3 linked regions of the Homo sapiens genome follow. The protein of the gene in region 2 purifies or fractionates together with the protein of the main gene of each other region. This does not show direct contact. Each region holds a gene or a part of one and is shown on either strand. Other genes may lie near its edges.

What was found.
Region 1: the proteins of FAM13C (region 2) and AHCYL2 purify together in Homo sapiens (affinity purification with mass spectrometry; 3 studies listed by BioGRID and IntAct, with this or other methods). This does not show direct contact.
Region 3: the proteins of FAM13C (region 2) and PDZRN3 purify together in Homo sapiens (affinity purification with mass spectrometry; 2 studies listed by BioGRID and IntAct, with this or other methods). This does not show direct contact.

The regions. Positions count from the first base shown.
Region 1 is NC_000007.14:129,227,951-129,235,959, reverse strand, and holds part of AHCYL2 (adenosylhomocysteinase 3), read right to left. Parts: intron 1-8,009. UniProt on the Homo sapiens protein: May regulate the electrogenic sodium/bicarbonate cotransporter SLC4A4 activity and Mg(2+)-sensitivity. On the contrary of its homolog AHCYL1, does not regulate ITPR1 sensitivity to inositol 1,4,5-trisphosphate.
Region 2 is NC_000010.11:59,246,874-59,254,882, reverse strand, and holds part of FAM13C (protein FAM13C), read left to right. Parts: intron 1-439; coding exon 440-535; intron 536-1,884; coding exon 1,885-2,084; intron 2,085-3,206; coding exon 3,207-3,308; coding exon of another isoform or gene 3,309-3,396; exon of another isoform or gene 3,397-3,714; intron 3,715-7,112; exon of another isoform or gene 7,113-7,145; coding exon 7,146-7,269; 3' UTR 7,270-8,009.
Region 3 is NC_000003.12:73,383,588-73,391,596, reverse strand, and holds part of PDZRN3 (E3 ubiquitin-protein ligase PDZRN3), read left to right. Parts: intron 1-480; coding exon 481-579; intron 580-1,718; coding exon 1,719-1,781; intron 1,782-3,527; coding exon 3,528-3,629; intron 3,630-5,811; coding exon 5,812-5,928; intron 5,929-6,666; coding exon 6,667-8,009. UniProt on the Homo sapiens protein: E3 ubiquitin-protein ligase. Plays an important role in regulating the surface level of MUSK on myotubes. Mediates the ubiquitination of MUSK, promoting its endocytosis and lysosomal degradation. Might contribute to terminal myogenic differentiation.

The sequences.
Region 1 (8,009 bases), on a different chromosome or scaffold from region 2:
GTACACACACAAAAATGCATACAGATAGTTACTGCAGCACCATGTATAAAGAAAGAAAAAACAAGTTAAGGTAAATGTGCATCAATGGAAGAATGGTTTAAGAAACAACAATATAGACTTAGGAAATTAATTGAGCAGTTAAAAAATATGAGACAGATCTATAGGTACTGATACAGAAAGAGCTCTAAGATGTGCTACTGAATAAAAAAGGAACCTGCAAAACAATGTATAGAGAGTATGCTTTTATTTATGTACAAGTTATTATAAAACTCACTTTGGAAAGCTGAGGTGAGCAGCTCACTTGAGCCCAGGAGTTCATGACCAGCCTGGGCAATATGGCGAAACCCCATCTCTACAAAAAATACAAAAATCAGTTGGGCATGGTGGCATGTGCCTGTAGTCCCAGCTCCTCCACAGGGTGAGGTGGGAGGATTGCTTGAGCCTGGGAAGTTGAGGCTGCAGTGAGCCATGATGGTACCACTGCACTCCAGCCTGGGTGACACAGTGAGACCCTGTCTCAAGAGAAAGAAGAAGAAGAAGAATGAGAAGGAGGCTGGATGAGGTGGCACATGTCTGTAATCCTAGTCCTTTAGGTTCAGAGGTGGAAGCCTCTCTTGAGCCCAGGAGTTCAAGTTTACAGTGATCATACTATTGCACTCCAGCCTGAGCAACACAGTGAGATCTGCCTCAAAAAAAAAAAAAGAAGAAGAATGAGAAGGAGCAGCTAGAGAAATAAGATGGAAGCTAGTAAAGATCGGTGTCACAGAAGCCAAGGGAAAAGAGTGTTTCACAAGGAGTCAATGTCAAATGCTGCTAAGAGGTCCAAGAAGATGAGGACTGAAAAAAAAGACCCCCATGTTTCCCAATCTAATGGACATCAACAACTTTAGCAAGAGGGTTTTGTTTTGGTTAAACAGAATATTATAGCAGGAGTGAGTTAAGGAATTCATGAGAGGAAAAAAGCACATATAGCATGTACTGAAAACTCCTTTAAGAAGCATGCCTGTGAAAGAGAATAGAAAAACATGACAGCAACAGAAAATATGCAGGTCAAAGGACAGGGTTTTCAAAATGGGAGACAATAGGGCAAGTGTGAATTCTGAAGGAAAAGACCTAGTAGAAAGATGAAATAAACCAAAGGAAGAAATTCTTTAAGACAGGAGAGGCCAAGCACAGTGGCTCACACCTGTAATCCCAGCACTTTGGGAGGGTGAGGCAGAAGGACTGCTTGAAGCGAGGAATTCGAGGCCAGCCTGGGCAACAAAGTGAGACACCATCTCTACAAAAAGTTTTTAAAATGTGGCTGGGTGCAGCGGCTCATGCTTATAATCCCAGTACTTTCAAAGGCCAAGGAGGAAGGATCACTTGAAGCTGGGAGTTCAAGACCAGCCTAGGCAACATAGCAAGAGACCCCATCTTGGCCAGGTGTGGGCTCGCGCCTGTAATCCCAGCACTTTGAGAGGCCAAAGTGGGCAGATCACAAGGTCAGGAGTTCCAGACCAGCCTGGCCAACCTGGTGAAACCCCGTCTCTACTAAAAATACAAAAATTAGCCAGGCACAGTGGCGGATGCCTGTAATCCCAGCTACTTGAGAGGCCGAGGCAGCAGAATTGCTTGAACTCACGAGGCGGAGGTTGCAGTGAGCCGAGATAGTGCCACTGCAGTCCAGCCTGGGTGACAGAGTAAGGCTCCATCTAGGGGGAAAAAAGAGACCCCATCTCTACAAGAAAGTCATAAAAAAATTAGCCAGGTATGGTGGCATGCACCTATAGTCCCAGCTACTCGGGAGGCTGAGAAGGGAGGTTCTATTGAGCTCAGGAGGTTGAGGGTGCAATGAGCTATGACCACACCACTGCACTCCTGCCTGGGCTACAGAGTGAGACTTCATCTCTTGAAGAAAAATGAATGAAAACAAAGAGAAAGAGAGAGAAGAAAGATAGAAAAAGAAAGGAGGAGGAAGGGGGGAGGGGGAGAAAAGAATGATTACAGCACCTGTGAAGGGATTGGTCTTGACAGAATGAAGGAGAAAAAGATGAGTCCCAGATGCACATAGGTTTGTAGACTTGGGAGGTAAAAGAATGAAGGAATTCCCATTCAGCAGCTTCCATTTTTATAATGAGGCATAAAGCCTATGACTGGTTAAAAAAGAAGAAAATATGAGAGATTAGAAATAAGAGCTGGGCACGGTGGCTCATGCCCATAATCTCAGCACTTTGGGAGGCTGAGGAGGGCGGATCACGAGGTCAGGAGATTGAGCCATTCTGGCGAACACGGTGAAACGCCATCTCTACTAACAATACAAAAATTAGCTGGGCGTGGTAGTGCGTGCCTGTAGTCCCAGCTACTCATGAGGCTGAGGCAGGAGAATCGCTTGAACCCGGGAGGCGGAGGTTGCAGTGAGCGGAGATCGCGCCACTGCACTCCAGCCTGGGGACAGAGCAAGATTCCATCTCAAAAAAAGAGAAAAAGAAATAGAGACAGTAGGCCAGGCACAGTGGCTAATGCCTATAATCCCAGCACTTTGGAAGGGTGAGACAGGAGGATCACTTGAGCCCGAGAATTGGAGACCTGCAACATGGCAAGATACCGTCTCTACAAAAAAATAAAAAAATAGCCAGGCGTGGTAGCACACTTGTAGTTCTGGCTACTCAGGAGGCTGAGACAGGAGGATTGCTTGAACCAGGGAGTTTGAGGCTACAGTGAGCTGTGACTGTACCACTGCACTCCAGCCTGGGTGAGAGAGGGAGACCTTGTCTCAGTAAAAAAGAAAAGAGAAAGAGACAATATGAAGAAATAATTCGCAGTGAGCTGGAAAGTGAACTAGAGAAATGTATAACATTGCTAGGTAATGCTGATTATGCATATGAAATAGATGATTATAAATTTTTAATGACACTGATCTGTCTAATTTGCTGATTTTCTCTAGCAACTCTCAGCTCCATGAGTGCCAGCAACTAAGAAGGTAGATGGTTAGGTTCAACCCGTACATCACTCCAAGTTCTACAAGCAGCAGAAGTCAACACTGGCTGAATTAAACAGAAAAAGAATTTACAGAAAGGATATGAGGTCACTTTTTCAGTGAAGAACTTAAGTGCTACACAGCTAAAACAACACTCAAAATTACAGAACTGGGTTGGCAAAGATGTGATTGCTAATGCCAAGCAGGAGATGCTGCAGCTTGGTTTGCACCATCACAGTTCTGGATACTAAGTGCTAACACTTGCCACTGTTGCCCTTATAACTTGATCTTGCTGCTAGAGACTGATACTACATGTGAATCTGCTGATCAAGGAGGGGGATATTGTAAAGAACATGGTGGAACAGTTTGAGGGACTGAATCAGCTGAAGGATGAAGAGAGTGGTAAAGGAATTAGTATTGGGAAGATAATGGATGGCGGATGGCGGGTAGTGACTGAAACAAACAGGGATGTGAGGCATGGTGTTTAGGCCTCCCCTTGAAAGAGGCTAGATTGTGAGATCCAAAGTGGTCTTAGCAGCAGCTTAAGCAGACTTCAGTGGGAGTCTGGTCAGAGCAGCACGGGTGTTGGCACAGAGGCAAAGCTGCCCAATATTGCTATGGCCAGCATTTCATTGACAAAGCCTTGGACAAGTTAATTACTCTCTTTGAGCCTATATTTTCTTATCCATAATATAAAGATAGTACTACACATCTGATAAAGTTGTCATGAGGATTAAATACTAAGACAGAGATTCCTGACACGGAGTAAGTATTCAGTAAATGGTAGCAATTATAAGTGACACTGAAGCCAAGAGAAGAGTTTCCAAGAAAAGGTAGTCAATAGATGAAGTTTCACCTTGGAGCACTGTAGAATGTAAGTGTGTGCAGAGAAGATGAAGCTAGTTTTAGCCTCAGGTTTGCAACATTCAGAAAGGCTAAAGTCCTATACTCAGAGAAACTCAATCAGCAGTTCAAATACCCTTCCTTTATATAGGTTCTAAGCTAAGAACTAGGTGCCCCAAACCAATAGATTTCTACTGATAGACCCTTGAAAAAAAAAAAGAAAATAAAATCACCAGCTTTTAGTGCAAGCGTCCAAGAGGGAAATAGCTAACTGAACTGTTGCACGATACAGCTGGGGAAAAGGGAGACTGAAACCCATACAAATAATCATCTAATTTAATCAAAGTAATTTTAGAGTTGGGAACTGTTACAGAAGAAACGTCAATCCACTGCCGCTTTCTGCTCTGCTCTCACCAAATCGCAGGCCATAGGTCATTCAGACTATAAAAAGCTCCTACAAATTCCATAGAAATCTGATCAAGTTTACTAAACCTCTTGTTGGGTGAATGGAATTTCAGCTCCTCTAATTGTGTCTACCACCTAAACATGACAGCAGGGCAGTGGATCAGGGCAACTGCCAAGATTGTTCTCTTCCCATCTGCCTCAGTTGTACCTCTCTAAATTATTTAAACAAAAACCACCATGAAACAAACTGCATATTCTTTATAAACTTGACAAAGGGTCTGAATAAAGATTACAACAAACTTTTTTTCTCTCGTGGGGGAGGGAATCACTTCCAAGGAAATGATATAATAAACTCACTCTCCCTTTTTAATGAACTATCGATTTCTTCAATTAACTGGATACTGAGAATGTAGGTAGTACTAGTAGTAGTAGTAGTAGTAATTGTCTTCCTCAAGACATCAAACACACAACTGCAACTTCAGCTCCTAAAGCAGCTTTTTTTTTTCTTTTTTTTGAGACAGAGTCTCATTCTGTCGCCAGGCTGAAGCGCGGTGGCATGATCTCGGCTCACTGCAACCTCCACTTCCCGCATTCAAGCATTCAAGTGATTCTCCTGCCTCAGCCTCCTGAGTAGCTGGAACTGTAGGAGTGCACCACCATGCCCAGCTAATTTTTTGTATTTTTAGTGGAGACAGGGTTTCACCACATTGGCCAGGATGGTCTTGATCTCTTGACCTCATGATCTGCCCACCTCAGGCTGCTTTCTCAGAAAATAAATGCTCACAAAAACACACGGTAAGACCTTCAACCACGCAATAAATAAAAAGAAACTGTCAGTGCAATAACAAAAAAACTACCCAAAAAACACAGATTAAGATTTAGGGCCAGGCGTGGTGGCTGACGCCTGTAATCCCAGCACTTTGGGAGGCTGAGGCAGGTGGATCACGAGGTCAGAAGTTCACGACCAGCCTAGACAATATGGTGAAACCTCGTCTCTACTAAAAATACAAAAATTAGCCAGGCGTGGTGGCGTGCACCTGTAGTCCCAGCTACTCGGGAGGCTGAGGCAGAAGAATCACTTGAACCCGGGAGGCAGAAGTTGCAGTGAGCCAAGACCGCACCACTGCACTCCAGCCTGGGCAACAAAGCAAGACTCCATCTCAAAAAAAAAAAAAAAAAGATTTAGAAGGTTCATCCTGAGTTTCGAACAGAGTACTATTTGAATTGAAAAGCAACAGTTTAGGGCTCTGTTAGTTCCATCACATTACCGTGTAACCTTGAGACAAATTCCTTAATCTCTTCGACACTCAGTTTCTTCAATAAAACAAGGAGAACACTAGCTATCTTCGAGGCCTCTTAAAAGAATTAAATAGCCGGGCGCGGTGGCTCATGCCTGTAATCCCAGCACTTTGGGAGGCTGAGGCGGGTGGATCACGAGGTCAGAAGATCGAGACCACCCTGGCTAACTTGGTGAAACCCAGTCTCTACTAAAAATTAAAAAAATCAGCCGGGTGTGGTGGCACACACCTGTAGTCCCAGCTACTCAGGAGGGCAAGACAGGAGAATCGCTTGAACCCAGGAGGCGGAGGTTTCAGTGAGCCGAGATCGCCACTGCACTCCAGCTTGGGTGACAGAGCGAGACTTGGTCTCAAAAAAAAAAAAAAAAAAAAAAAGAATTAAATAAAACAGTATATGTAAAGCTCTAAGTACAATGCCTGGTATACAGTAGGAATATTCTTCCCTTTGCAATTTTCAAAAGCTCTTATCAAAGATTGACTCATAGAGATGGTGAGGCTTAAAGAATAGGGAAAAAGTGTTAGCTGAACAGGAAGAAAGGGTATATTCCTCAGGTACTCCAAATTTATTTATAACTTTTAAAATATGGATAAATTTCTCAGATTATCAGTAAATTACCAGTGTGAAGCTGCATCATTGATCTTGAAATGCTTTTCTGTATAAGATGCTTTTATTCTCCTCTTCTAAATTTACAATTCTTTCAAGTTCTACATTTGTACAATTTTCTCCCATCCTCTTCCTAAAGCTCTAACTCAGACCTGCCTTACTTTGGTCTTGGGATGACCTAAGCCTTAGCCAGACAGACACGCCTTAGAGTTCACTTAGTATTCTAAAAGACCTCTGGGAGAAAGCAAGAACTCAGCATCTAAGAAGTTAGAATCACTGTGGCATAATGAAAAGGACATGGGCTTTGGAGACGGACAGCCCTGGATTTAAGTTCTACCTCTGACACTTTCTAGATGTATAACCTTGGGCAAGGCACTTAACCTCCCAGGATCTCATTTCTGCATCTATAAAATGGAAATAATGCCACCTACATCTCATAGTATGGTTGTGAGGATTACAGAACCCCTATGACAACTCCTGGCACATAAAAGGCTAATGGCTCACATCTGTAATCCCAGCACTTTGGGAGGCCGAGGCAGGCAGGTCACCTGAGGTCGGGAGTTTGAAAGCAGCCTGACCAACATGGAGAAACTTCATCTCTACTGAAAATAGAAAATTAGCCGGGCATGGTGGTGCATGCCTGTAATCCCAGCTACTCAGGAAGCTGAGGCAGGGGAATCGCTTGAACCCGGGAGGCGGAGGTTGCGGTGAGCTGAGATTGCACCATTGCACTCCAGCCTGGGCACCAAGAGTAAAACTCTGTCTCAAAAAAAAAAAAAAAAAAAAAAAGGCTAATTATTGGTAACTATTATTACAGACCAACTGCCAATTGCCTTACTGAACACTTTTCAGAGCAGTACTCTTGTAACAGGCAAAAGGAGTCATACTGCTACCACATTCCCATGTCTTTATCCAAAACATTCCATTTTAGTACTCTATAATTAACCAAATCAAGAGCTTAAACAATTCAGGACAAGAAGTGCTAACATGGCTCAACTCATTCTCTCCTGACAGCAACAAAGCCAGTGGAAGGTGGATATGTTTGCCAAAAGCAATAAAGGGTCTGTTTGAACACGGTCATTACTGATACTGATGTAAGCACAATCTAGTTGAGGTTCTTGGGCTTGCAGCCTTATTGTCAGAAAGTTTTAATATTTCTGAAATAAATCCTCTCCTGCCTTGTTTTCCCTGCTGTGCGCCAACACTCCTATCACTCATTTTCAAGAACACAAGGAAGAAATCCCTTTCAGCTAGTACTACCTCATTCCCTGTGGAACTTACCTTCCCATTTCCCAAATTACTTCTTATAGAGATTTTTGGCTTGCTGGGTTCACTTGATGTCAACTTATGAAAAAGGACACTATAATTAAATATATCATAGCCACATAACATGATCTGGCCCCCAGAGCATCGCAAGTTACAGGACGGAGGCAGGTGCCAAAGATAAGATGTGATTGAGTAACCTGCACACCATATGTTCCTTCTTATTAACTACTGCACTTGGGAATTCTGGCTCTTGTAAAAAGTTTATTCCCCTTGTGTGGCTGAGCAGAGTAACAAAACTAAGAAAACTGATGATATGTGAATGAAGTAAGGAAAACCATCTATGGAAATGTGACTTAAAATAAATGTTTATACATGAAAGTTAAAAAACAAATGCAACAGTCACCAGTTCCACAGCCAAAGGCAGCTATTTCAATACTAGTATTCTCAGTTCCTTCATATGCTATAAGAAAAACAGTAAGGAGTCAAGGTCAAAGTGGTTATTTACATAGACAATCTAAGAATCAACAAAGGCTCAACAAATCAAAATGTCACACTGCAGTTCCTTGGTGAGATGACTTTCAACTTAGGGAAAGGGCAGTCTTGGGCACTTATTTTGATTTAGCCAATTCAATAT
Region 2 (8,009 bases):
GTGGCTCACACCTGTAACTGGGGGCCGAGGCAGGCTGATCACTTGAGGTCAGGAGTTTGAAACCAACCTGGCCAACATGGTGAAACCCTGTATCTACTAAAAATACAAAATAATTAGCCAGGCATGGTGGTGCGTGCCTGTAGTCCCAGCTACTCAGGAGGCTGAGGCAAGAGAATCGCTTGAACCCAGGAGGTGGAGGTTGCAGTGAGCCAAGATCATGCCATTGCACTCCGCCTGGGTGACAGAGTGAGACTCTGTCTCTAAATAAATAAATAAATAAATAAATAAATAAATAAATAAATAAATGACTTTCCTTTTCATGATAACTGCTGCATTATAGTATTATAATCCTTTACTTTGAGGCTTTTTGTCTGCTAAAAATGTTGACGTTTTCATTCTTGTCTGAGAGAGGAATAATAATTAATTTCATGTTTTTCAGGTAACTAAGCAAGACAAGAACCTCATAAAGCCGCTTTATGACCGATACAGAATTATCAAGCAAATCTTGTCAACACCTTCCCTTATTCCAACAATTGTAAGTCAGGATACTTGCATGCTGTTACTTTGTACTGATGTGTAGTTAACAGGATGTCACATAGTAGTACAAGAGTTATAAAAGACCCTTCATGGCAGTATATACTGCAAACAAGGCTAGTTGTCATTTCAAAAAGTGAAAATTTGGTCTTCTCTAACCCCATTACTATATTTAACAGTGGCTGATATTAGAACTATTGTAAAATAGGAACATATAGCACTTGTATGTCTAGAGCCAATTTTAACATTTGCTTTCATTATCTTGGGTGAAAAGAAATGATAGATTTCAGTTTGGCATTTTCTAATTTGTAACACAGCTAGACAAAACAGAGCCTTTCTGTTCTGTGTGTTGGTTAATTTTTTCCTTTAATCAGAAAATTAACAATATATTCTTGATATAATGCAACATTTGTTTTTGGTACCATTTGACCATACTGTACAAGATATGAGAAGATTTATTTCAATAGAAAATATAAGTACTGAAATTGAATTAGGCTACTTTTAATAAAGAATGATTTATGGGAATACAGAACTAGAAAAGCATCACAAATCCTACTCCATCAATATCAAAACAGTTACTTGTTCAAGATATCAATATAAAAAGGAATAAATATTAACAAATATAAATTTAAGTATGCTTGGGTACATTTATACTTCCACTTTTTTTGAGACAAATTATACTTCCACATTTTTAAAGACATTAAGTGAATAATAATTCATAGTCTTTGGAATTTTCCCTTTATGGAAGCATAATTTAAAATGTAGTAAGGTTCTTATATTTCTTGCAAGAGAATCTTCTAGTTGTGATAAGAATTATCAGAACAGTTGAGGAGTAACCCCACTTTGCTTTGGCCTTCAAATAGCTCTCCCCTGAACTTGTCAATTTACTGAGTATCCTCTGTATCTGAATGTTGGTCCCCACTGGGACCTGACTTGGGGTATTTCTGGAGGATAAAAGTTGTCCGTAGTCCACCTTATCTTAACTCATATCACAAGTATTAAGCTGGAGCCCAGAAGGTCTGAGTGAAAGGGAGGAACCACTTGGTAGTATAGTCCAGACTGGACCATATCCTAATGGTCTGTGCCTTCATTGGCCCAGAAGACACAGATGAACTTGGTGAGTGTTTTAGCCCAGCATGACTGCTGCCTTTTTGCTCATTAACTTCTGTAGGTTTTTAATGAAACTGCGGAAGAGCTCCTCTTGGTTTCTTCCATCCCAGTTCTCAGTAGGCACATGGGTCACCTACTGGTTTTCATGGCATTGATTTATAGTTCCCCTTCCTGTTTTTGTTTCCTCAAGAGGCACTGAGCATTACATGACTTTCTTTCTTTAACTCTGCCTGTGATAAGCAGGAGGAAGAGGACTCTGATGAAGACCGTCCACAGGGAAGCCAACAACCTTCTTTGGCAGATCCAGCATCTCACCTTCCTGTTGGTGACCACCTCACCTACTCTAATGAGACTGAGCCTGTTAGGGCCCTTTTACCAGATGAAAAGAAAGAAGTAAAACCACCAGCTCTCTCCATGTCTAATTTACATGAGGCTACCATGTGAGTATGAATCCTAAGTGTGGAGTCTCCTCTTAACTCCTTCTGGTCTGATACCAGTATATGAAGTAGAGCTGGCCTTTGAAAATGCTGGACTCAAAGGGGTGGGTCAACAGTTCTCAGGGCCTTTATCCTAGTCTCTTACATTTAGATGAGATAGTTTTTCCACTAGAAATCCACTTGGTAGTAAGCAAATGACTTGCCCTTTGTCTCTTAAATAGCCCTTCAGATATAAGCCATTTGGATTTTCATTAATATTATCATTATCATTATTATTATCATTATTCAGTAGCTGGCATTCCTCATGATAATTTGGCCTTCTTTGGTTTGTATCTTACAGCCCAGATTATGAGATTTAATTTAATTTAATTTAAGTTGACAGAAGTGTCTGTCAGAGAAAGCAAGTAGAAAATCATTTTTTTGGTGGTGGTTCTAAAGCAGTTATTCCTAACTTTTCAAGGGGTGTTGGGACTTCTTTGAAACCAATAGAATCATTTTAAGAAAATGCCCATGTATAATTTCAAGTTCACAGAATCTCTGAAACCATACATGAGTTTGGGTATGCTTGTGTATATACCAGATTCCTGCTCTAGAGTATATGACTTTTCTCTCATCTTGGTAGAATGAAGTGAGTAGAATTTGCAATGTAACTATCGCTTTCTTCTGGGTCTTATTTTCATTCACAAGGGTTTTGCTATTCTCCCAATATTCCCACACTTATTTCTCTAGATTAAGAATAGAATTTTCTTTAAAAGCTGCTCCTCTGTATCTCTTATGTTCAGTCTATGACCAAATGCTGATGAGTATTCCTTCAAAATATCCCTTCCCTCATCCACCTATATTGCTGTTACCCTTTCCAGTTCCTTCAGTGGATTCAATCAATCTCCTTGCCTCTTGTCTGTCCTTTCCCCTATCCTGTGATATTTTTTCCATCAGGTAATTTTCCCTGCTTATGTGCTTGCCTATGGTCAGGCTCTATGTGTGTCATATTTACTCAAAAGATACTCTTATGATGGGAACACTTTTCAATCATAGATGCTTTTTTGGCTGAACAGATAAATCTGCTCATGATGATCTCTCAATTATGCCAGTGCCCAGTAATGACAAGTATTTTACCTTATATAGGCCTGTACTTCTTGACCATCTCCGAGAAACTAGGGCTGACAAGAAGAGACTGCGGAAAGCCTTAAGAGAATTTGAAGAACAGTTTTTTAAACAAACAGGAAGGTATGTGTCGGCAGAGAGATTTTTAAAGCTAATACTTCCTAGAGAATTGCTGTTAAAAATGAGCTGCAATTTTTTGCAGGAACGGTGACTTTTTACAAAATGTATATAATTTCCACACTGGCTTAGACTCAGGATTTGTCCAATGCAACATTCTAATAGTGCCAGTATTAGGGATGTTTCATGGGACATGGTAGCTGTCAGGTATGACATCAATCTGTAAAAAATAAAGGATAAACTCCAAAAATCTCTAACTTTGCACAATAAATCTCATCATAAATAAATGAATTTATTTAAACCTTTAAAAAAATCTGTTGATTTTTTTAGCCCACATAACTGCTTTGTTGTTGGTTTCTTAGTTCCACAAGTTACTCCCTAATTTATTAAATAATAATTCCTTATTTGCTTTAAATGTCTTCCTTAAAAGTCAGGATCTGTCCCTAATTATTTTATTTCAAGAGTCGATCAAAAATTCATAGTCATTCTTTCTACTTCTTAAATAAATGGTTAGCTGTATCATCTGTCCTCTATTTTTCTGTGTCAACCCAAGTCTCATTATACACTCTATTAGTTTCCTCCAATTTTTGGTGTATCATCAACAAAATTACATATATAATCAAGAGATAAGGTTATTGATCTAATTTGGAAGAGAGATAAATTGCTTAGCTATCTTGAACCTCAGTTCCCATTTTATGAGCTGAAATGGTTGGACTCCTGGGATACTTTGGGAAGCTACAGCTGTCATGTGGGATATCAATCTTTACAAAAATAAATAAATGAAGAGTGTAACTTTCCCAAAGCCACAAGTTATTAAGTAGATGAAATGAGATTAAACTCATTATTCAACTCATAAACTCATCATTAAACTCATCAGTGCTACATGGGCTCCTCTGTATTCCTCTCCATTTAGGTATTGTATTTGACTTTTCAGTTCAGCAGGTTGAGGGTTGTCCTGATGGAAAGGGACTATTTTCCAAAAGCACCTTGAAACTCTCATGCGTGGTCTACTTACCTCTTAGTCCCTGGCAGGTTTTCCATTTTAGCCTACCAGGGATATTCTTTAGGACTGGACCTATTGAGTGAAAAGCTTTTTGCATTCAGCCAATACAGATGTAACAACTTATTTTCTACTTACAATCTTCCTTTCCAGTTGATTGCTACAAGTCCAACTTACCTTTTTGGTGATGTTAAGTAATCTAGTGAGAAATGTTATGTGGCTCATAAATTTAGAATATAAAGCATTTGTTATTTTTTTCCTTTTCCATACTTTTTTCTTTTATAAAATGTTCATGTAACTTTCCTTGTAAAATATTCCTTGGAGTAGTAACTTTGTCTGTCTGGACTGTCTGCTCCTATTATACTTTGGGTAAATATGTGACTTGCACTATAAAGTTCCTGATCTCTGCCTCTTTTGGATTAAAGGTATTCTATGGGAATTTTTCATTCAGGGAAATATTTGTGGAGATGTTATCACATATTCTAAATCTAAACAGTCATTACATATGAGAAATGACACTTTAAGATGTGCGTACACTCTTTTCATAAATTTGAGTTCCCTGAATAAATTTATATTTTTTAGCAATTTGAACTCAGGAATCTATCGTAAGGGGTTTGAGAACTTCCCAGTGTGCTACTAGTCCTGCCTACTGGATCTGCAGTGTCACTTGGTGTGCTTTTTGTCATACATACAGGGAAGTTAGTTATGTTCTATGTATAGTGTTCCACTGCACCTATGAGTCTTAAACCCACTTCAGATAAGTCTGTATTTGTCTATGAAGTTTTATGCCCCCTTGTGATGATATATTTCAACTAAATGCACAAGTGATGATCTTTTACAACTAAAATCAAACAGTTGAATGGCTAGGAAATATGGACCTTAATTTTGTTTATCTAAGACATTTTATTGGGAAGGCCTAAGCATCCATAAGTTAAAATAACCATGCAAATGGATTACTAAAATGTTTAAGGCACTATAAATGTTCTTGGTAATATTTGCCATACAAGAGGCATGAGAATCATGCAGATATTACATTATTATTAATAATTATTAGCCTGGAAGTGTGCTAAGCACTTTAGTATGTTTTATATAATGGAGAAACTCCTTCAGGAAAGACTTGGCAAAACTTTTCATTCTTGTCAAAGCACTCTTTTTTTTTTTTTTTTTTTTTTCTTTTGAGACGGAGTCTCACTCTGTCACCTGGGCTGGAGTGCAGTGACGCGATCTCGGCTCACTGCAAGCTCCGCCTCCTGGGTTCACGCCATTCTCCTGCCTCAGCCTCCCAAGTAGCTGGGACTACAGGCGTACGCCACCACGCGTGGCTAAGTTTTTATATTTTTAGTAGAGACAGGGTTTCACCATGTTAGCCAGGATGGTCTCAATCTCCTGACCTTGTGATCCGCCCGCCTCGGCCTCTCAAAGTGCTGGGATTACAGGCGTGAGCCACTGTGCCCGGCCTCAAAGCACTCTTATTAGCCAAAATGGAATATGCAAAACTACGGAAAATTACATAATTGATTATTAATGTTTCTCTGTAATAATTAGACAATTTCTTTACTTAGATCTATTTATACAAATTAAGGTGGTATTCAGACATCCAGCCATGATAAGTTTGACTCATAACACAGAATGGAGGCAAAGATATATGTTATATAATTTAGACAACAGTTAAGAAGAATGCTGTCTATGGATTTGTATACTGTTCTGAGTTCTGTACTAGAAATTGCAGGGCAATAAATAGTGTTGAAATACAAGTAGATACTATATTCTTAATTTGTATAGATTAGCTTGTTTTTTATTTGGTAAGAGATAGAAATATCTCTTTATCACTACTGGGAAAAATAGAAGGGAGCTAAAGATAAAACATTAAATATATGCTATTTACCTGGTTTCAGCCATACTAACATTAGAGAATACTTGTGGTTATATTCAGTTGTAATTGTGGTGACTATATCTGTGTCCTCTACCCCTTGAATTTCAAAGTCGTGGGTGGAAATGTTTTCAAAACGATTGGCTATCTTATTAACCAAGAAAACAAGAGCCTTCTGAGACCCTGTCGCAATTTTTCCCTTTAGAAAACGTTTCCTGACAACATATTTTTGTGGGAAGGCAAATGGTTTTAACTCCTGATATTACCAAGTTATTCTTCCAAGTAAACAGCAAGAGTATGCTGCATATGTATAAAAATCTATGCATTGTTACATGTCTAGCCTTAGTAGAATTAGTGTACAGAAGAGAACCACCACAATTTAGACTCTTGTCAATTACTTCAATCAAGGAACAGCTCAGTGGTTCTACTATATATTAGCAGAGATAGGTATTATAATTACAAGAAAATCTGGAAACGTTTCAAGTTTGTAAGACAGACCCTAAATGCTTTTCTTGTTACCATAGGTTTATGTTATTTTTATAATGAAATTCCTGTAGTATTTTCAGGTTAATATTTTTAACAACTGTATTAGGGCTGATCATTTTGTACAGCTGTAGGGGTGTGGCAAATAATGGAAGAATGACTGGACAAAGAATGCCTTGAAAGTTCTGTTTCTTGTTTGTTTGCTTCTCCTTAGATCTTTTCACTGACCCCTTTGTTGTAAGTCTAAGCACTAGACCACATATTTGCAAAACACTTATGACATTCAAGTTTTCAAAGGTTACTATTATTTAGAAACTTAGTAACACATGGAAGAAGGAGTGAATGAAGGTGAAAGGGAAGGAAAAGAAGACATGATGCAAAAACCAAGTGGAGGCCGTTACAGTATACTTTCTCATGTATGAATTATAAAAGAATGTTTAAATAATGACTTGATTCATTGTGAACTAACAAATGTATTTTTGTTTTGCAGAAGTCCACAAAAGGAAGATAGGATACCAATGGCAGATGAGTATTATGAATATAAGCACATAAAAGCCAAACTGAGACTATTAGAGGTCCTCATCAGCAAGCAAGATGTGGCCAAAACTATTTGAGGTTCAGGAAATGTTATGATCACTTTCACCCATGATATAAAGTAAAGTTTATTTTCCTCTGCCATCCTTGCTAAGTAGTTTTGACACAATGAAAATGGAAGCACTTTAGTGGTAGTATTAGCTGTTTTTAAGAAGGAATAGCAAGTTTAATTATATACAAGGAGAAGGGATTTAAACGGGGGGAAGAATACAACAGGTAGCCATATAATTGGGAAAAAATTCAGTGTCCTCCATGCCAAGCAGAAAACTCATAGTCAATACAAGTATTTTTAAAAATGTCTAATATTTTATCAAATCTAAATAACATAGCTAGGACACTTGTTAGGGAAAGTTTATTTAGTATCCAAAGACTGTTTATGTTGATGTATGGAAAAGAGCATGATTTTAAAAAATCAATCATAGGAGGAAAAGAAATTCGCTTTTCAAGTAGGAAGGAATACAGCTAGCAAGAAAGCAATTTATTTGAAACTTCTAATGGATTTTTGAGTGATAAAACATTTACTACCTTGTCCTTTAAGTCTGCTAGGCTCTCAGTACCCTAAAATAAACTAGATTGTGTTGCTATTTTTTTCTTTCTCTATAAAAATAACACATTATTTTATCCGTTATTTGAAATTTTACATTTCTGGTTACCAAAGTTCATTCTGATAGCATGTACTTTGTGAATTATTATCTTTGTCTATAACTGACAGATGTTTATATTAAAATAAAATATTGTATTAAAAATTTAAAATAGGTAT
Region 3 (8,009 bases), on a different chromosome or scaffold from region 2:
TTACCCTCCTTTCTTGGATCAATTTATGTGTAATCTGTTTGCAAGTTCTATGACTGTGAATATTAAGGGAACGCAATGTGAAATAATCTAACCAAACACATTGGAAACATTTGTACTGAAATGGCTGGGTGGTTTGGGGTATGGAAATATTCTTGTTTGTGGCAGACATTGAAAAAGTGTTTTTGAAAAGCCCTGCCCCAGAAGTCTTGACGCTGAGTGAAATATGGGTAATTTTTCTTTGGGGGATCAATGAAATAACTATTTTCAAAATGACTTTATATTGAGTGAAAGGTCAGAAATGCCGTAGGCATTGATCCTGTGTCCATAATCACTTTTTGTTTAGTAAGTTAACCGGCCCTACACAGTTGAATGCAAAGAAATCCAGTTCCTCATTTGAAGATAATATTTTTAAAGCATTTGACATCCCCTCAACTCGCATTGCCTGCTGGAGTCTCACTGGGAATGCCTTTCTTTGTCTAGGAAGTGGACCTCTACAGAATGAACAGCCAGGACAAGCTGGGCCTCACTGTGTGCTACCGGACGGACGATGAAGACGACATTGGGATTTATATCAGTGAGGTACAAAGGCTGATTTTGTTTTTCTAACTATCGTATCAAGACCAAAAGGGTTTTTTTTTTCATGTTCACCAACCCTAACCCACCTCATCAAGATCTCTTTGGAAAGACACAAATTATTCTGTCCCCCTCATCACACTCCATGGCGCTGCATCTTTCCACGGAGGTTAAGTTCTAATGCCAGTACTTATGGCAAAATTACCCTTGAGAAGCCTGCAAATCAGCCATAAAATGGAGCCGTTTACATGGTTTTGTGTGTTTAGCCCCAAGGGAAGAGCAGATTCACATTTCCCAACTCGTGTTCATTGAGTGGAATGGTGGATGGAATCACTTACACTTTTTAAAGCCTCTCTCTCTCTCTCTCTCACACACACACACACACACATTTTTTTTTCTCTTGGTGGAGTATATATAGTTGACTTCATATAAGTTAAATGTGACTTGTATGTACTTATCAAACTACATAGATGCACGCTGTTTTGATCTTCCTTGAGAAGATAATACAAATCAACTGATTTCAGTATGGAAACTTTACAGTGCACACCCATCCTTGCAAACACAGAAACCCAATTTTGTCAGGAAATAAAATTTGTCGCTACAGAATGATCTACTAGACTTAATAATTATCTCTTTGGTTGTATGTCATTCACCAAGCTTAAGTTAACCCATCCTTTCTGCATTTGGGGACATCCCTCCCCTTACCAGTCCCCCTTGTCCCAATTATATTTCAATTTTAAAGTTATTTTCCAAATTTTAATACAAGTATTTGGTATAAAATAAGGTATAGTTGCTAGTCCACATAATGAAGGGTATCCTTTAACCTGTTCTACATCATTGATTTGATTTTAATTACCATGCATGCAACAAAAGTCAGCTGTGCCTCCTCAGATCAGCAGAGCCTGCACACACTGCTGTGTAACAGGGTTGCTACACAGGGATCCAAGAACCAGCCCTAGAAAGGGCTTAGAAGCAGATCAGCTCATGTTTGCCTCTCCTTGCACGACACTAAGTCTTGTTTATTTCTGTGCAAAACAGAAACACAGGGGTGAGCATGACTGTGTTTTAGAAATGGTTTTGAAAGTGCTGTTGCTTATTTTCATGCATGTCTGCGTTTGCGCTGAGATGGTCCATGTGTGTTTCAGATTGACCCTAACAGCATTGCAGCCAAGGATGGGCGCATCCGAGAAGGAGACCGCATTATCCAGGTAAGTCCACTTCCAAACAATGGCCTCATGATGGGCCTATCACTAAAGAACAAACTGGTTCTAATGATAGGTCTAGGGTTGAAAATGCAGAAGCGGTTAAAGAACAGGGATCACAAACGCAGATGTGTAGTGAGGCCAGACAAGTTAAACTAATTGTGAGGCTATCTCTGAGTCATAAGACGCAAGAGGGAGTGGTGAGGACTGGGACAAACTAGATGGGGCATGTTCTCTCCAAAGAGGGCCTTGCAAAATTTGAGCCAGTTCTCCTTATTTTGTTTCATTCTGTTTGGATCAAAACAAACATCAGTGAGCCAAAGTCAGGCCAACAGTTTACAACTTGTGAACTAAAATAATTCTCGTTTTAGATTTCTCTGAAAGATTAACTTTGGACCAAGCATTTCAGAGGCTCGTCCATAAAAGGGGAACATTTTTGGCAAATTTAGCAGCATCGATTGAAAAGTCTTAGAAATTTTCTGACTCAACATCTAACCATCCTGGAATCGCTTCTAAGGGTCATTACTTGACCTCGAGCCCTGTTGCTCCGTCTAGTCCAAATGAGACCATTCATGTCTCTTTTGGCTACAACCTTCTTTAATCTCACAGAATTGAAATTCTTGGCTTCATTGTGTCCACAAGGCTTAGCTTTCTACCTCTTCTCATCCGTATCCTCTCATTCTTAATCCACTGTGTTTTTCTCATTGCATACCTCACCACAGGTCATTTTGATTTTCTTCTTCCACTGCCTACTCTGGGTTTCTCTAGCCTTCAGCCAGAACCTGTGCTGCTCAGGATCGCTTGCCCTAGGGAAGTGACCCAAACCTTCACACCTGAAGGGTCAGGGTCCTCAGCATACTGCCTCTTTTTTTTTTTTTTTTTTTTTTTTTTGATTGCTGGAGTTTTCCATTAACCTTTACTACTGAGAATGGAAGCACTCAGAGGTACTCCAAGGAATCCCCTAGGTTCCAGACACAATCCTCCCTGCCTCCACTGTGTCACAGCAAGCCCATCTTCCTTGGTAATTGAGGGCAATCACTCCAACCAATAGAGTCACCCCTTTTGCTGCCTGTTGGCTCACTAGTGTAAGGAGGCATATGGAAGCCTCCACTTCCAATTCAGTGGAACCATTGCTGTGTCCCCTGGAGGCGGCGTTCCACCAGGACTAAGACCTCCAGACCAGCAGGGCTCAAAGTCACCAGGACATGCAAGCAAAAATCCTGCAAGAGGGTTAATCAAGTGTGATAGTGAGAGTGTCACGCCCACTTGACCCTCCGCCTGGCCCAAAGAAGTTTAAGTGTCAAACTGGGGACACAAAACACCATGTATAATTCTATTCCATTTTCTTAACCTCAGTTTGCTGCTTTTTCTTCTATATTATCCAATAATGTCTACATATACTCCTGCCTGAATATTATGTCTAATTGCTTCCATGTTCCCTCTGCAGAGCATTATGATTTTTCTCAGTGCCGTCTTCTGGAGGTCCAGCCCCTTCTGTTCACACCCCACACATCACAGTCACCTCATGAACTATACTCATGGAGGCTCCCTTATAGACCAGAGAAACTGCATTGGTCTGAGCAAGACCTTTCCTTCCTAACATCAGTATTCTTTTCCAGCTACACGGAAGTTGTATGTTCTAACTGTGAGTGGGTGACAAATGCAGGTCTGAAATAAAATAGAATGATTTTGCACCATCTAATCATGCTATTTGTCTCCCCACTCTCCCCACCCCCCCTTTTTTTTTAAAAGATTAATGGGATAGAGGTGCAGAACCGTGAAGAGGCTGTGGCTCTTCTAACCAGTGAAGAAAATAAAAACTTTTCATTGCTGATTGCAAGGCCTGAACTCCAGGTAAATTGGCTTCCTACAGATGAAACTGGGTCTATATTTCTAAAATCAAAAGATCCCCAGGCCTGCAAAAGAGCACCTGAGTATTGGCTGCGAACTTGAAGGTGCTTTGTTCCCTGGAAATGTAATCAAACTTGCTGTGATTCAGAATTCACTTTATGAGTTAGCCATTTAAGGTTGGTTAGATGCCCACCCTGGCATCTATACTGCAGGCCCACGACGTTCATTAATGCAGGGATCATAGGGAAGGAAAAGGAAACAGAATTGAATGGAAAACACAACCGGGGTCACGTCAAGACATTTGACTTCCCAAGGCCTGACATATGTTCCAGCCTTGATCTGTGCAGGTTTCATTTACAATAGCAGAGTATGGGGAATTAAAACTTGCTCTTTCAAATTAAAAGAAACATTGAATGATAAATAATTAAAACTGATATGACCACCGAATAAGTGCTAGGCCCTCCGTGGAGCACTTTACACACAGGAGAGCCTTCCCAGGAGATGGAAGTTCCCAGAGATTCAAAAGTTACCCAGGAAAGGCCCAGAAGGAGGGTGATAAAGCAGGGAGGGGTTCAGGCCCAAGTAATCTGATTCAGAAACCTCTGTGTTGTAATAACTCCTTCCACAGGAGGAATCATGAACTCACCCAGGTGGCACTCTTGATCCACTTAGAATGGCTCCAGCAACACATCTAGGGCAATCCAGTAGTAGATCTCTTTAGGTATGTGTATTAGTCCGTTTTCATGCTGCTGATAAAGACATACTCGAGACTGGGTAATTTATAAAGAAAAAAGAGGTTTCATGGACTCACAGTTCCACATGGCTGGGGAGGCCTCACAATCATGGTGGAAGGCAAAAGGCACGTCTTACGTGGCAGCAGGGAAGAGAGATGAGAACCAAGCAAACGGGGTTTCCCCTTATAAAACTATCAGATCTCATGAGACTTATTCACTACCATGAGAACAGTATGGGGAAAACTGCCCCCATGATTCAATTATCTCCCACGAGGTCCCTCGCACAACACGTAGGACTTATGGGAGCTACAATTCAAGGTGAGATTTGGGTGGGGACAGCCAAACCATATCAGTATGAAACCCGATTGAAAAAGCCGAGAGACAGACAGTGGCATACGGGGCATCTGATTCTCCACAGATGGGAGCCTCATGAGCTCAAAGGGAACTTCAGCAATCATCTCACCCACAGTCACAGACTTTTTCTTAAAGGGCCAGATAGTAAATGTTTGACTTGGGTGGCCATACCATCTCTGCCATGACTGCTAGACTGTCACTCTAGTGCAAAAGCAGCCATAGACAATTATGTCAGCGAATGAGCATGGCTGTGTTCTCATTCAACTTTTTTTATTATTATTTATAAAAATACCAGGCTGGATTCAGCCCATGGGCTATAGAGTGCCAACTTCTGAATAGTTCACTCTTTTTTGGGCAAGGCAGATAAAGGCCTCTTAAAAGTGATATCCAGCCAGGCTCAGTGGCTCACGCCTATAATCCCAGCATGTTGGGAGGCTGAGGCAGGAGGTTCACTTGAGGTCAGGATGAGGCCAGCCTGGCCAACATGGTGAAACCCAATCTCTACTAAAAATACCAAAATTAGCTGGGCATAGTGGCGCATTGCCTGTAATCCCAGCTACTCGGGAGGCAGAGGTTGCAGTGAACCTAGATCGTGCCACTGCACTCCAGCCTGGGAGACAGAGTGAGATTCTGTCTCAAAAAAAAAAAAAAAAAAAGTGATATCTTGCCCAAGCCAAACAGCTAGTTACTGTATCAGAAAGAACTCTTTTCACACTGAAAATCATTTTTCTATGGGACCTGTTAAACTCGTGTCTGGTCCAGCAAGCAGGTGGACCAGCTAAATCTACCTGACCCTCCTACACAGGTGTCCTACTGCACTGAAGGTAGCTGAGATGGATGAAAGAGTTTCACCCTGAAAAAAAAAAATCATGGATATTAAAGACTTCCCCAGATGTAGTGTAGGGTTGGAGGTCTGTTTAATGTAAGGGTTGGATAGTTTCCTGACTTAACAGCAAATCATTGGGCAGACTGCATTTTGATGACTCTTGGAGGAAGCCCTAGAAATATTTTCCCCCAAGGTAATGTCATTTTTAAAAAAACATAAATGAACATGAAAGGAAACTTCTAAGGCATGTGTTGGCTGCTCTTGCCTGCAGCTGGATGAGGGCTGGATGGATGATGACAGGAACGACTTTCTGGATGACCTGCACATGGACATGCTGGAGGAGCAGCACCACCAGGCCATGCAATTCACAGCTAGCGTGCTGCAGCAGGTAACGCCCACGCACCAGTCCCTGACACTCTGCCCTGCTGAGCTGGAGGAAAATCTGCTTCCTCCATCTCCCTTTATGGTGCTAAAGACCATCAGAAGTCCATCCACCTGGAAGGCAGCAAGAAAACAGCCTCAAGTACTTTTCTATTTGAGCACCAGACCAGTGAAATGCAAGCTGGTACTGTCCCTAGCTAAGCTTTTAAATCTAAGCAACATTGCCAAAGCAAAGCTGACCTTCTGATAATTTGTTTGGAAAACATATGCGTTGGCATTACCATAGATTGCAAAAAGCCATGTTTTCCAAAGTAAAGCAATCCCCTCTGTTTAACAGGAGCTGCTTGGAGCTCTCTAGCTCCCTGCTATGCTACTACCATTGTCAGAGTCTTAATGAGCCACTTATTGAGTCCTTATTGAGTTGAACAAGGACCTTTATACATCCTTCTACCTGTGTACTGATTCATTTAACAGAATCATTGAGAATCATTCATTGAGATAAAGTGACTATTATCCTCATTTTACAAAACTGAGGACAAGAACAAGAATAAGTGACTTGCCCAGGTAGATACGGGTAGGTGTAGCTAAGGCCCACGCTATTGACGTGGTCCTACTGTCAGATGCTGTCCCTTGGCCTTAGAAATGTACAGCCTGCCCTATCCAGAAACCGCAAGGAAAGGTCAAACCTGAGTACCTGCTGCGCAGGCCTCCCTCACTGTGACCCTTTGTTCTTGTGTTTATGCAGAAGAAGCACGACGAAGACGGTGGGACCACAGATACAGCCACCATCTTGTCCAACCAGCACGAGAAGGACAGCGGTGTGGGGCGGACCGACGAGAGCACCCGTAATGACGAGAGCTCGGAGCAAGAGAACAATGGCGACGACGCCACCGCATCCTCCAACCCGCTGGCGGGGCAGAGGAAGCTCACCTGCAGCCAGGACACCTTGGGCAGCGGCGACCTGCCCTTCAGCAACGAGTCTTTCATTTCGGCCGACTGCACGGACGCCGACTACCTGGGGATCCCGGTGGACGAGTGCGAGCGCTTCCGCGAGCTCCTGGAGCTCAAGTGCCAGGTGAAGAGCGCCACCCCTTACGGCCTGTACTACCCTAGCGGCCCCCTGGACGCCGGCAAGAGTGACCCTGAGAGCGTGGACAAGGAGCTGGAGCTGCTGAACGAAGAGCTGCGCAGCATCGAGCTGGAGTGCCTGAGCATCGTGCGCGCCCACAAGATGCAGCAGCTCAAGGAGCAGTACCGCGAGTCCTGGATGCTGCACAACAGCGGCTTCCGCAACTACAACACCAGCATCGACGTGCGCAGACACGAGCTCTCAGATATCACCGAGCTCCCGGAGAAATCCGACAAGGACAGCTCGAGCGCCTACAACACAGGCGAGAGCTGCCGCAGCACCCCGCTCACCCTGGAGATCTCCCCCGACAACTCCTTGAGGAGAGCGGCGGAGGGCATCAGCTGCCCGAGCAGCGAAGGGGCTGTGGGGACCACGGAAGCCTACGGGCCAGCCTCCAAGAATCTGCTCTCCATCACGGAAGATCCCGAAGTGGGCACCCCTACCTATAGCCCGTCCCTGAAGGAGCTGGACCCCAACCAGCCCCTGGAAAGCAAAGAGCGGAGAGCCAGCGACGGGAGCCGGAGCCCCACGCCCAGCCAGAAGCTGGGCAGCGCCTACCTGCCCTCCTATCACCACTCCCCATACAAGCACGCGCACATCCCGGCGCACGCCCAGCACTACCAGAGCTACATGCAGCTGATCCAGCAGAAGTCGGCCGTGGAGTACGCGCAAAGCCAGATGAGCCTGGTGAGCATGTGCAAGGACCTGAGCTCTCCCACCCCGTCGGAGCCGCGCATGGAGTGGAAGGTGAAGATCCGCAGCGACGGGACGCGCTACATCACCAAGAGGCCCGTGCGGGACCGCCTGCTGCGGGAGCGCGCCCTGAAGATCCGGGAAGAGCGCAGCGGCATGACCACCGACGACGACGCGGTGAGCGAGATGAAGATGGGGCGCTACTGGAGCAAGGAGGAGAGGAAGCAGCACCTGGTGAAGGCCAAGGAGCAGCGGCGGCGGCGCGA